Regions from separate parts of the Homo sapiens genome. Here regions 1 and 2 are each linked to region 3. The links come from fine-mapping of genetic effects on plasma protein levels. Region 3 holds a variant in brackets. A gene starts in each other region. All regions are shown on their forward strands.

Region 1 (4,193 bases), not on the chromosome of region 3:
GAGGCAGAAGAATAGCGTGAACCCGGGAGGCGGAGCTTGCAGTGAGCCGAGATCGTGCCACTGCACTCCAGTCTGGGCAACAGAGCGAGACTCCATCTCCAAAAAAAAAAAAAAAAAAAGCCTTTGGTTCAGTTTTATTTGTTTTCTGTGTTTAAGCAAATAAACACCCAGTGTTTTCCAAGAGCATTTTGACTCTGGGCTGCTCTCCAGAGAAGCAGGATATAAGCTTGTCCACAAACCCAAATGAAAACAAAGGGCCCACACAATTGCCACGCATCTGGTGACCAGACAAGTTCACTAAATCTCAGCTGGGGTGGAAGTTCCTTGAGACCAGGGAATTTGAGTCACCTTGTAACCCTAAACAAAGCCAGGCATAAGTTGGATGCTTACCATATGTTAGTTAATTGAAAGAAGGAAAAACAGAGCACTGCACTGATAGAGAACAGTGACTGTGCACCTGATGTGCCGCAATGTGGTTTGGTGTTAAAAAAAATCACTCTCATTCATTACTAGTAGGAGTTCAAATGGGAACCACAGTTCCAAAAAAGCAATTTTGGCAACGTGTAATGACAGCCTTAAAACTATAAACACAAAGATGTTCCCTGCAGCCTTATTCATAATTTTTAAAAATAAAAAACAAACTAAACATCTAATAATAGGCTATGTAATCGTCCAGTAGCTCTAGTGGATGGACTATTACATTATTATAATTATTCAAATTAATATTTTCCCGCTTCTTCCCTGCTTTCCTTCAAGAGGTGGGGGAGGCCACCTGGCCCAAGCTGAAGGCCAAGATACAAGAAAAAAATGCAAAGGTTCTATTTTGGCAGCGTTTACATGGGCAGGGTGTCGTGGGGAGGCTGGCGGAGGGAGTGGGAGCAGGTGACAGAGAATATAGGGTAAGTTAGAAGGCTCTCAGTGCTGGTAAAAATAAAATAGAGTAAAGTAAAGGGTGGGGGTAGAGTTGAGGGGGGCGTGATCAGATTTCTGTTCAAATAGGATGGTCTTTTTGCTGTGAACTTAAGACTGCTCTAAGGCCAGGCGCAGTGGCTGACGCCTGTAATCCCAGCACTTTGGGAGGCCGAGGCGGGCGGATCACAAGGTCAGGAGATCGAGACCATCCTGCCTAACACGGTGAAACCCCGTCTCTACTAAAAATACAAAAAATTAGCTGGGCATGGTGGCACACGCCTGTAGTCCCAGCTACTCGGGAGGCTGAGGCAGGAGAATCGCTTGAACTTGGGAGGCAGAGGTTGCAGTGGGCTGAGATCGCGCCACTGCACTCCAGCCTGGGTGACAGAGTGAGACTCCGTCTCAAAAAAAAAAAAAAAAAAAGACTGCTCTAAAAAATAAAGTGTATTAAAAAGAAACTACGATGTTCAGTGTATGCTTCATCTACGGTCAAAGAGGCAAAGACTGAAGTGACAGTGGAAGCCAGGTGGTTATCTGGGAGGCTTACAAGACTATGTGATAGTATGGAAAATACTAGTATTAAGTGAAATGCTGGATGCAAAACTATGCATAGAGGGGAAAAACTGGAAAGAAATAGTAAACACAGCAAAAGTAGTTTGTGTGAAGGATAAATTTTTTAAAATTATTTTTTGTAGAAACAGGGTTTCTCTACATTGCCCAGGATGGTCTCAAACTCCTGGGCTCAAGCGATCAATCCTCCCACCTCGGCCTCCCAAAGTGCACAGGTGTAAGCCACCGCGCCCAGCCGAAGGATAAGGATTTTGGGTGGTGCGCTCTTTTCTCCTTTCCATTTCTGCATTTTCCAATTTACCTTTAGCGACCGTTCTTTCCTGTTAAAAAAAAAAAATTCACGACCTTGAAGAAGATACACGGGCTATGACTTCGCTGTTGTCACCGAGCGCCCCGCCCACCGCGTTCTCCGACCCGCGGCCGGCAGGGGGCTCGCGGCCTCCGCCAGGCGTCCTTCGGCTCCGTCAGTTCCCACAGGGCCTTGTGCGACATGGGCTGCGCCGAGGGCAAGGCAGTGGCGGCGGCCGCCCCAACGGAGCTGCAGACGAAAGGCAAGAACGGCGATGGCCGCCGTAGGTCAGGTACGACCGAGGGCGAAGGCCTGGTCCCCAGGTCGACGGGCCGAAGCGGGCCTTCCGGCCGGGGTTGGGGATAAAGTGCCCCGGAGCCCTGGCCTTGAAGCCCCTCACTGGAGTCAGTGACTGACCGCGCGCCACGCTGGAGACCCCAGAAACGCTCCCCCAGGTCACCCCGGGAGACGGAGGCCGGCGGCCGGCCGAGGGCTGCCCCGCCCGCTGGCTGTGAGAGAGGTGGGAGGTGGAAGGAGGAGCGGGCCCGCCGCGAGGACCTGCCCGGAAACCTGTCGGAAACCGAACCGAGATCTCGGCAGCGACCCGCCTGATTTCGCTCAGGGCCCGTTAGGGCGTCCTCTTCCTACAAGCACCGTGTTTCCAATGAAAGGTTACGGGGGAAGCGACCAAACCGACAGCCGAGTCCGGGGGTGCCCCTTCACCTCTCCAGAAGCCCCCGGCCCACTCCCAGCATCCTCCTCCATCGAGAATCTTGTCCGACACGCCTTCCCGGCCCCCTTTCTCCATCCCCTTGAATTTTGGGCACATTTCTCCCACCATCATCCCGCTTTATCCTTTCACTTGTTCTTCCAGAAGAGAAAGCTCCCAGTCTCTTCTCCATTGTCCGGATAATGCCAATAATGGCTAGTGGTTACTAAGCACTGACATGAGAGGGGCCTTTGGAAGCACTAGACATGGGTAATAATCTTGGTTCATGTTTCCAGCCATACTGAGAGATTTATCATAAACCCCATTATACAGATGAAGAAACTGAGAAGCAAAGAGGTTATAAAACTTACCCAAAGCACACAACTAGTAAGTGGAAGAGCTGGGATACCAGTTGAGGCCATCTGACTCAAAAGCCCTGGTCATAGTCATATGGCCGCCTCCACCTTTTTTATAGGCTTGAGAAAGTGAGGCTCCAAAAAGTGCCTTGCCCAATGGCTAGAATTATTAAATGCTGTAGGATCTGCCTCTTTCAAAGGCTTACAGTTTAGTTACAAGGCAGCATATGGTGAAGGGCTAAAAGGAGTGGTAAAAACAGCCAAGTGGGGATGGCAGCTCCCATAGATGAGGTAGGATTTGGTAGAGGTGTCTGAAGGGAGAACATTCTTGTTAGGGGAAGCAGCCGGTGAGACCATGCTAGAGATAGGGAGGCCTGTATATCCTGCTGGAGTTAAGGACTTGGATTAGGGGAAGGGAAGAATAAAGGAACAGGGTAGGAGCAAGGTCAGGCAAGGTCCAGGTCAGGCAGCTAATTTGTGGCCATTAGTACAATGAAGGAGTTTGAGCAGGTGCATCCCAAATTGACGTTTCATGTGCCATCCTCAGGATCTTCTTGATATCTATGTCCTTCCATTTATTTACTGTTTTTCTTTAGCTACATTCTTTTTGTGTGTGGTTAAAAAAAAAAAATTTACCATCTTAACAATTTTGTTTTTTTTTTTTTTTTAGTTTCGCTCTCGTTGCCCAGGCTGGGGTGCAATGGCGCCATCTTGGCTCACCTCAGCCTCCACCTCCCAGGTTGAAGCGATTCTCCTGCCTCAGCCTCCCAAGTAGCTGGGATTACAGGCATGCACCACCACGCCTGGCTAATTTTGTATTTTTAATAGAGACAGGTTTTCACCATGTTGGTCAGGCTGGTCTTGAACTCCTGACCTCAGGTGATCTGCCCACCTCAGCTCCCCAAAGTGCTGGGATTACAGGCATGAGCCACTGCACCCAGCTGACCCTAACCGTTTTTAAGTATACAGTTTTCAGCAGTATTAAGTATATTCACATTGTTGTGAAGCAGATCCCCTGAACTTTTTCATCTTGCAAATCTGAAACTCCATGCCAACTCGTTAACTTTTCATTTGCCGTTTCCCCCAGCCCCTGGTATCCATCATTCTACTTTCTGTTTCTGTGAAATTTGGCTACTTTAGATTGCTTATATAAGTTGGTATCATACAGTGTCTGTCTTTTTGTGACTGGCTTGTTTCACTTAGCATACTTGTCTTCGAGTTTCATCTGTATTGTAGCATGCGACAGGATTTCCTTACTTTTTAAGGCTGAATAATATTCCATTGTGTGTGTGTATATGTACATACACACACACATATATACACACACACACACACAAAATGGAATATATATACACAC
Region 2 (4,227 bases), not on the chromosome of region 3:
TTATTGTAGATTTGTGGTTACATATTAAAATCAGAAACTGTAAGACTTCCAATTTTGTTCTTTTTCAAGATTGTTTTGACTATTTGGGGTCCTTTGAGATTCCATATAAATTTTAGGATGGATTTTTCTGTTTCTATAAAAATATTATGATTTGCATTTCAATAGGGATTGCATTGAATCTGTAGATTGCTTCAGGCAACATTGACACCTTAGCAATATCAAGTCTTCTAATCCATGAATATAGGATGACTTTCCATTTATTTGTGTCTTCTTTCACTTTGTTTGTCAACACTTGTGATTTTCAGCGTACAAGTCTTTTGCTTCCTTGGTTAAGTTTATTGCTAAGGGCCAGGCGCAGTGGCTCACACCTGTAATCCCAGCACTTTGGGAGACCGAGGCGGGCGGATCACGAGGTCAAGAGATCAAGACCATTTGGCCAACATGGTGAAACCCCATCTCTACTAAAAATACAAAAATTTGCCGGGCATGGTAGCAGCTATGGTGGGCAGCATGGTGGGCAAGTAGTCCCAGCTACTTGGGAGGCTGAGGCAGGAGAATCACTTGAACCCAGGAGGCAGAGGTTGCAGTGAGCCAAGATCATGCCACTGCACTCCAGCCTGGGTGACAGAGCGAGACTCCATCTCAAAAAAAAAAAAAAAGTTTATTGGTAAGAATTTTATTCTTTTTATTCTTTTTCATTGCTTTTATAAATGAAATTGTTTTCTTAATTTCCTTTTTGGATTTTTCATTATTAGTGTATAGAAACAACTAATTTCTATGTGTTAATTTTGTATCCTGCAACTTTGCTGACTTTATTAATTCTAATAAGTGTGTGTGTGTGTGTATGTGTGTGTAATCCATCTTGGTTTTGTTTTTATTTTTACTTGGAGACTCAGGCAGGGACAGGTTTTCTTGTCATCTTCCAAAGCCTGTGGGTAGACTTTTTCTAGGTCCCTATTCATTGAAGAAGCAGGCTTCAAGGATCCCAGCTGTCCTCAAGAGTACTGGTTCCAGCTTCCTGCTTCATGAACCGGTCATGGCCCCTGCAAGGTCAAGGTCATTATAATGCCAGCACCTGACTGCTAAGGCTATTTCCCTTCCAATACCTTCCCCTCAGAGCTCCTGGTGCATCAGCTCATTCAACCTTCTGCTTTTCTGCTCTCTCTTGATTTAAGAAACAGACACATTATATTTCTACATAGTTAGAGCACAGGGGTCCCAGCATCCCACTTCCAAATGAGCATGTCAAGCACATGCATTCAGAGAGGATACCTGGAAGCCAAAATTTTGCCATAGTGAAAGGCCTTATTCCTGAATACAGCTAGAGTGGGGAAGACCTTGGCCTCTCCCCCCGCAGGCAAGAATGTTGCCTCCACAGGGGGCTGGTAGCCTGCTAAGGCCCAGGCCACATGAGTGGGTTGTCTACTGTTACTGAGGGCCTACTATGTGCCAGACACCATACTAGGTGCTTTACATACATTATATGTCATTGAATCTTCCCTCTAGTCCTGTGAGATAGGTACTATTATTGTCACTGATTCACTTGAGAAAGCTGCCAAAACACAGATAGCAAGGGGCAGAACCAGGATTCTGATTTAGGTTGGCTCAGCCTTTTATCAAATACATCTGGTCTTCCTCTGTCCTTTCAAAAGCCTATAGCTTCCTCATCTTGCCCACTCCTCTGTGGGTAGGGTCTGTGGTTTCCTTTCTCTTATCTATCTTCAACACACAGTGGGTGTGACCTGGGTGCAACCAGTCACAGCTCTGCAGAGGTTACTGTGATTTTGCCCCTGAAGGATCTGTCCACAACTTAGGAACTCACACAGCTTTTGGCCTGAGCCCCCGTTACCAAGAGAAAGGAGGTTTTTGCCAAGGACTCCAAGGGGAGTGCACTTGATGCTGGTCGGGACCCAAAGCGCCCAGCCCTCCCTGAGACATTGTGTGAGTCGGGCTGGGCCTCAAACACGGCCCCCACTGCCCCACCCCAGCCAGGGTGGTGCTTGTGTGGGAAGGACTTTAAATCCAGCTGCCAGACCCCTGGACGGGAGAAGGAGAGACGGCTGGCCACCATGCACGGCTCCTGCAGTTTCCTGATGCTTCTGCTGCCGCTACTGCTACTGCTGGTGGCCACCACAGGCCCCGTTGGAGCCCTCACAGATGAGGAGAAACGTTTGATGGTGGAGCTGCACAACCTCTACCGGGCCCAGGTATCCCCGACGGCCTCAGACATGCTGCACATGGTAAGTGTGGCCACGGCCCTTGCTGGCTGGGATGGAAGGGGTGCTGGCCAGGGTCTGTCACCAGGCTCTCTTACCCTGCTCCTCATGCTGAAGCTATTTCAGAATTCCTCTCCTTTTTCTGGTCAGTGACAGAGTCCCCGAGTCCCTGACATGGTATTACATTACTTTAAATGGCAAAAACCACAATTACTTTTGCACCCGCCTAATAAAATTCACAGGCCCCTATAAGCAGCCTCATAATACAGATAAGGAAAGTGAGGCTCAGAGGGATTTGTTGGGGTCACACAGCTGGTAGAGCCAGACCCAAAGCCCTGGCTTCCCACTCCAATGAGCTTTCCCCAGCACTTCCTCAAATGCATGTGCCCTCAGTGGGGGAACCCGGGAAGTTCTTAACACCTTTGTGAAAACGGTCTTTCACATGCCTGCCAAGGAGAGGACAAGAGGAAGCAGGGCAGCAGGATGGGCGTGGGCACGTGGAGTAGGAGGCAGGTGCTAAGGAGGTGGGTGACAGCAGGATCCAGAAGCAGAGAGGGCTCTGGATCACACAGTCCAAATTCTGTCTCGGTCACCTACAAGACCTATGATTCGAGGCAAGTCCTGTAACCTTGCCGATCCCGTGTCTCATCTGTAAAAGGCGGTCAGAATTAGAGCTACGTATATACCAGTGTGGATTGAATCTCACAGATATCATACTGAATGGGGGAGGAAATAAAATCTCTAAAAAATACACAGTAGGATCTCTTTACATGAAGTCTGAAAACATGTAAAAATACTATTTATGTCCTGGTGAAACACGCAGATGTAGTAAACATTACATGTACATGCACACAGGAGACAGAAGCCAGATTTAGGGTTGGTTACTTCTGTCAGGAAGAGCTATTTATGGTAGGGTGAGAGGCGGGCTGTCTATATGCAGAATTAAAGGAGATAAAGTGAGAAATTCACCCACTTCCTGCCCTCCCTGAGGGCTGAACTAGCTTGTCCCCTCCAGCCACCCTCAGGTGACTGGGGAGGTTGCTGGGCAGTGTTCAGGGACCCCTGGAGCTGGTGCCTGAGAGAACAGATGCACCTTGGGGAACATAACAGTGAGCCTGGGGCCCCAAACCTAAGTTCTAACCTCAGCCTAATGTGATCTGGCTGAAGTAACTCTGGGTGGACCCCTTTCCCTTCAAAGGCCTCTGTTTCCAGATGGAAACATGGGGCTGGCGATCCCTGCCCTGGGCGTCAGACAGGATGACACGTAAGAAAGATCTAGGAAGAGCTCTGCACACACCCAGCACTGCCGTTCACAGCTGTGCCAGCCTGCACATCGAGGAAAGGTGGACAACAAACCAGGCGTCACAGATGCAGCTCTGCCAACAGCTCCCTGATTGAGGCCTGTGACTCATTGTTGGACTTCAGTTTCCCCACCTGTAGATCCCTGATGCCCTACAGTCTTGCTGGCTGAGACTGGGGGCCACACAGGCTGGGAGCTGCTTCTCAGACAGAGGTGCGCCTTGGAGTGGGGCAACATTCTGGGAGGCAGTTGGGATACTGAGGGGATATGCTGCTGCCTAATGGGGAGTGACATGAGGAGGAGGAGATGAGGCTGGGGCTGGGATGCCAGGAAACATTCAGGACAAGACTCAGGTTCAACCTCAGCAGTGGTGAGGGCAGGGACTCTGCAGCCAAATGGCCTGGGTTCAAATCTTAGCTTTGTTACTTATTAGCTTTGTGACCTTGGCCAAATTAAACTCTCTGTGCCTCAGTCTCCTCATCTGTAAAATGGGGATGATAACAGTGGGATAATTCCCTTGTAGCTACAGTGGTTGTAGGGTTAAGTGAGTGAATATGTGTAAAGCACTCAGAAGAATGCCTGGCACACAGTAAGTGCTCAGTAAGTGTCTGATTAACACAAAAGAGGGAATGGATCCAGGGTGAGGCAGGTGGGGGTTATCATGAACTCTTCCTTCTCTCTCAGCCTCCAGAGCTAATCAGCACCAGTTTT
Region 3 (4,227 bases):
ATGTCAGCAGCTGGGCTGGACCTGGGGGAGGACACGAGAGTGTGGTGTGGTGGAGTGTGGGAGTCTGGGGTCTTTGGGCAGAATTACCTCCTCAGCAGACCCCTGTTCTTGGGCTCTGGTCCCACGGCCCCTGCAGGGTGTTGGAAATCAGCCTCTCTCTGGGCTAGGTGAAGAAGGACAAAGTCTCAGCCCTGGGAACCTTAGAACCACCCACCCAGTACATGCGACTTTAGGGGAAAAAATGAAACTTGAAAACACACCCATATATATATATATATATATATATATTTTTTTTTTTTTTTGAGACAAGGTCTCGCTCTGTCGCCCAGGCTGGAGCACAGTGGTGCGATCCCAGCTCACTGCAGCCTTGACCTCATAGGGTCAAGTGATCCTCCTGCCTCAGCGTCTTGAGTAGCTGGGACCACGGGTGCACACCACCAAACCTGGCTTATTTGCATTTTTAATTTTTTTTGTAGAGATGGGGTCTCACCACATTGCCCAGAGTCCTCTGAAACTCCTGGGCTCAAGCCATCCACCTGCCTCAGCCTTCCAAAGTACTGCGATTACAGGCATAGTTGTTTTAAATACTGGATACACTTAAAAAGGCCCGAAGACGTTGGGCCGAATGGCTCATGCCTATAATCCCAGCACTTTGGAAGGCTGAGGCGGGTGGATTGCTTGAACTCAGGAGTTTGAGACCAGCCTCGGCAACATAGTGAGACCCCCCATCTCTCCCCCGCAAAAAAATAATTAGCCTGGCGTGGTGATAGGGGCCTGTAGTCCCAGCTACTCAGGAGGCTGAGGTAGGAGGATCATTGAGGATCTTGGGAGGTGGAGGTTGCAGCGAGCCGAGATCACACCACTGCACTCCAGCCTGGGTGACAGAGCCAGATCACGTCTCAAATAAAATAAAATAAAAAGCTCAAAGAATAAATTACTTGCACATACACTCATATTTATTCTCTTCTTTCTAGATTTTTCAGCTGGGACTTTCTGGAGCTGTTTTTCTAAGCTGACTTTCTTGTGTGTTTGGTTCCCCTTTGGTTGGTGCCCTGATCCCACCCTCGGTGGGCCCACAGGTTCCCCCAGTCCCTGCTCACCCAATGTCCTGTGTTTGCTCTGACGCCGACATTGGAGGAGGAGGACGAGCGGCAGGACAAAGGCCACTGAGACCCCGGTTACAACCCCCAGGTATCTTCCCAGACCTTGCGCGTGATGACGTCGGGAATGAGGATGACATCGCTGATGTGAGCACCTACTGTGTGCAGGCGCGTGCTGGGTCTTCATGAGCTCTAACCCTCACAGCAGTCGTGCAACGTGGGATTGCCAACCCCCCAACCCATTTCACAGATGCACAAACTGAGGCTCAGAGGGGGGAATCGCCTGCCCCAGGCCCCCCAGCCTGGAAGAAGCAGGTCTGGGAGGGGAACCTGGGACCTTGTGTTTTCCCCAGCTGTCCTCCTGCTGCCCCACCAGGTGGACACCTGCTTCCTGCTCTGGGTCTTCTCATCTGACAGCAGGGGCCTGTCTTAGTGTCTCCATCTGGGGCTGTGTCCTCCTTACAACCCTCCCTTCCCCAGCACAGCAGGGCCTGGGGGAGGGAGTGGGCTGTACAGGACGGACCCTGCATTGCTCTCACCCCCAGCCCAGCCAGGTCCATCTCCTACTCTGCCAATCCCTGACCTTCCCATGCAGAGCCTTTGACCACAGACTGAAGGGCTGCACTGTCGGCTTCTCGGCTTCTGAGGTTTTGGTACTCGGACTAGCTTCCTTGCTCCTCAGCTTACAGACAGTCTATTGTGGGACCTCACCTTGTGATCGTGTGGATCAATACTCCTTAATAAACTCCCCTTTATATATACATCTATCCTGTTAGTTCTGCCCCTCTAGAGAACCCTGACTAATACATGTTTCTGAAATACGCAGCCATAGAAGGAAATGAGAAATGAAACTTCCTGACACAGGCAGGAAACCTCAGGAAGCAGCGAGGTCAGAGCTGAGTTGGCTTCTGGTGACTTGCAATGTCAGGGAATCACTAAAAGGGAGGTTTCCGCCTCTATATGAGACAGAGGAGAACCCCAGGGCCCTCACAGTCAGGGAGGGGTTGGGGTTTTGGGTGAAAGTGGGAAGTTGTGGCTCCTCGTCCCCTGTGTTTGTGGATGGCACTGGGGTATCTCTGCTCATTGACTCAGGTTTATGGTCAGCCCTGAGCCTCCCCCTCTGTGTGTGTGAAATAGATT[C/G]ATTGTAGAGTTGTCAGACATGAGGTTCACACTGGACCCTCCCCTGCTGGTTACAGGCCTGAGCAGACTCACAAGACCCGGGCAGGTGGTGCCGTCCTCCTCTTTTCAAGCCTAACGCCCAGTGCAGCCCTGGTAGAAACCCTCTCTGGCAGATGAGGCACTGGGAGATGAGTGTCCAAGAATGAGAAGAAAGAGGAATCATCCTAATGATAAAAAGTGCTATGACTGGCTGCCTGCGATGGCTCACGCCTATTTTCCCAGCGCTCTGGGAGGCCGAGGTGGGCAGATCGCTGGAGCCCAGGAGTTCGAGACCAGCCTGGGCAACATGGTGAAACCCCATCTCTACTAAAAAGACAAAAATGAACTGGGTGTGGTGGTGCACACCTGTAGTTCCAGCTACTTAGGAGCCTGAGGTCGAAGATCGCTTGAGTCTGGCAGGCGGAGGTTGCAGTGAACTGGGGTGGTGCGCCACTGCACTTTAGCCTGGGTGACAGAGCAAGAACCTGTCTCAAAAACAAACACAGGCTGGGCGTGGTGGCTCACGCCTGTAATCCCAGCACTTTGGGAGGCCGAGGCAGGCAGATCATGAGGTCAAGAGATCGAGACCATCCTGGCCACACGGTGAAACCCCATCTCTACTAAAAATACAAAAAAAAAAAAAAAAAAAGATTAGCTGGTTGTGGTGGCGGGCACCTGTAGTCCCAGCTACTCGGGAGGCTAAGGTAGGAGAGTTGCTTGAACTCAGGAGACAGAGGTTGCAGTGAGCTGAGATCACGCCACTGCACTCTAGCCTGGGTGACAGAGTGAGACTCCGTCTCAAAAAATAAATAAATAAATAAATAAAAACAAAAAACAAACCAAAAAATCAAACACAAAGTGCTATGGTTGACAATCCACACTCACTAATGAGGATTATCATGGTCAAAAGGAGTACTAGGAATGTGTGAGACCCATCTTAGGTTAAACATGTTTAAATATTTGAGAAATACAGAGGACATTGAATTTCTGAGGCAGGATTATATGATTTTTTTTTCTACAGCAGAATGAATATTATATAAAATAATTAGAAGACATAGAAAAATCAGATTTAATGAACACAATCAAAATACTCATTCCTTCGAGGACAAGACACAGTGAAGCACCAATTATGAAATTAGAAAACAAAACAGAATTTTTTTTAGAGTGTAGCATAGAAACTTTATAAATTGCAATTTAAAGTACTTGGGAGAATAGAATGAGGAGGGGGAATGTCCTATCTATTGTAGGCGTCAGAAAGAAGGAAGAGAAAACGATGTCTAGCAATAGCCCAAGAGGTGAGTAGCTGAACATTTTATAGAGATGAGGAGAGACTAACTAAGGACTAGGGCGCATCCCTTTAAAATTGAAATGTATGGGCTGGACGTGGTGGCTCACGCCTGTAAGCCCAGCACTTTGGGAGGCTGAGGCGGGCGGATCACCTGAGGTCGGGAGTTTGAGACCAGCCTGACCAACATGGAGAAACCCTGTCTCTACTAAAAATACAAAAATTAGCCGGGCGTGGTGGCAGGTGCCTGTAGTCCCAGTTACTCGGGAGACTGAGGCAGGAGAATCGCTTGAACCCGGGAGGCAGAGGTTGCAGTGAGCCGAGATCACTCCACTGTACTCCAGCCTGGTGATAGAGCGAGACTCCGTCTCAAAAAACAAAACAAAACAAAACAAAAACCCTCACACAAAAACCAAGACAAATCCCCTTGACACAAGTTTATCTGTCTAACAAACCTGCACATGTATCCCTGAACTTAAAAGTGAAAAAAATAAAGGCAATATGTGTCAGATTTGTGGTGGTGTCTGCTGTTTCACCCCCATATGGAAATGTGTGCCTGAACCCCGCTTTTTTCCTTGCTTATTGTGGCTAGGATTTGTGAATGTAATTCACATTCTCAAGAATGAGCTTTTTTGGCTTCATCGAGTTTTCACGTAGCCCTCATTAGTAACTCCTCTTGTTATT

Which allele goes with the higher level. Alleles are on the strand shown, and positions count from the first base shown. The strength of an association depends on the size of the effect and on how common the allele is.
In carriers of allele C in region 3, the plasma level of the protein whose gene starts at base 1,949 in region 1 tends to be higher than with G alone (strong association).
For the plasma level of the protein whose gene starts at base 2,047 in region 2, G is the high allele of the variant in region 3 and C is the other (strong association).

What was found. PIP is the chance, under the fine-mapping model, that this variant and not a neighbour inherited with it causes the effect. Protein levels are from antibody-based Olink assays in UK Biobank. Linkage for the fine-mapping came from a reference panel and not from the study's own genotypes, which makes the PIPs less certain.
Region 1: TXNRD1 starts here. The variant in region 3 is fine-mapped to the plasma level of the TXNRD1 protein (UK Biobank, PIP above 0.99).
Region 2: PI16 starts here. The variant in region 3 is fine-mapped to the plasma level of the PI16 protein (UK Biobank, PIP above 0.99).

What each region holds. Positions count from the first base shown.
Region 1 is chr12:104,213,831-104,218,023 of GRCh38, forward strand. It overlaps TXNRD1 (thioredoxin reductase 1), which reads left to right and starts at 1,949. Exons shown (of 17, transcript NM_001093771.3): 1 at 1,949-2,063. The coding sequence starts at 1,973. RefSeq lists enhancers at 1,725-2,341, 2,342-2,957 and a silencer at 1,812-1,901.
Region 2 is chr6:36,952,692-36,956,918 of GRCh38, forward strand. PI16 (peptidase inhibitor 16) reads left to right here and starts at 2,047. Exons shown (of 7, transcript NM_153370.3): 1 at 2,047-2,240. The coding sequence starts at 2,070.
Region 3 is chr19:54,246,118-54,250,344 of GRCh38, forward strand. It overlaps LILRB5 (leukocyte immunoglobulin like receptor B5), which reads right to left. Exons shown (of 13, transcript NM_001081442.3): 13 at 3,304-4,227. It overlaps LOC107987463 (a long non-coding RNA gene), which reads right to left and starts at 1,829. Exons shown (of 3, transcript XR_007067341.1): 1 at 1,101-1,829; 2 at 1-163. The variant C/G (reference allele first, on the strand shown) is at 2,241.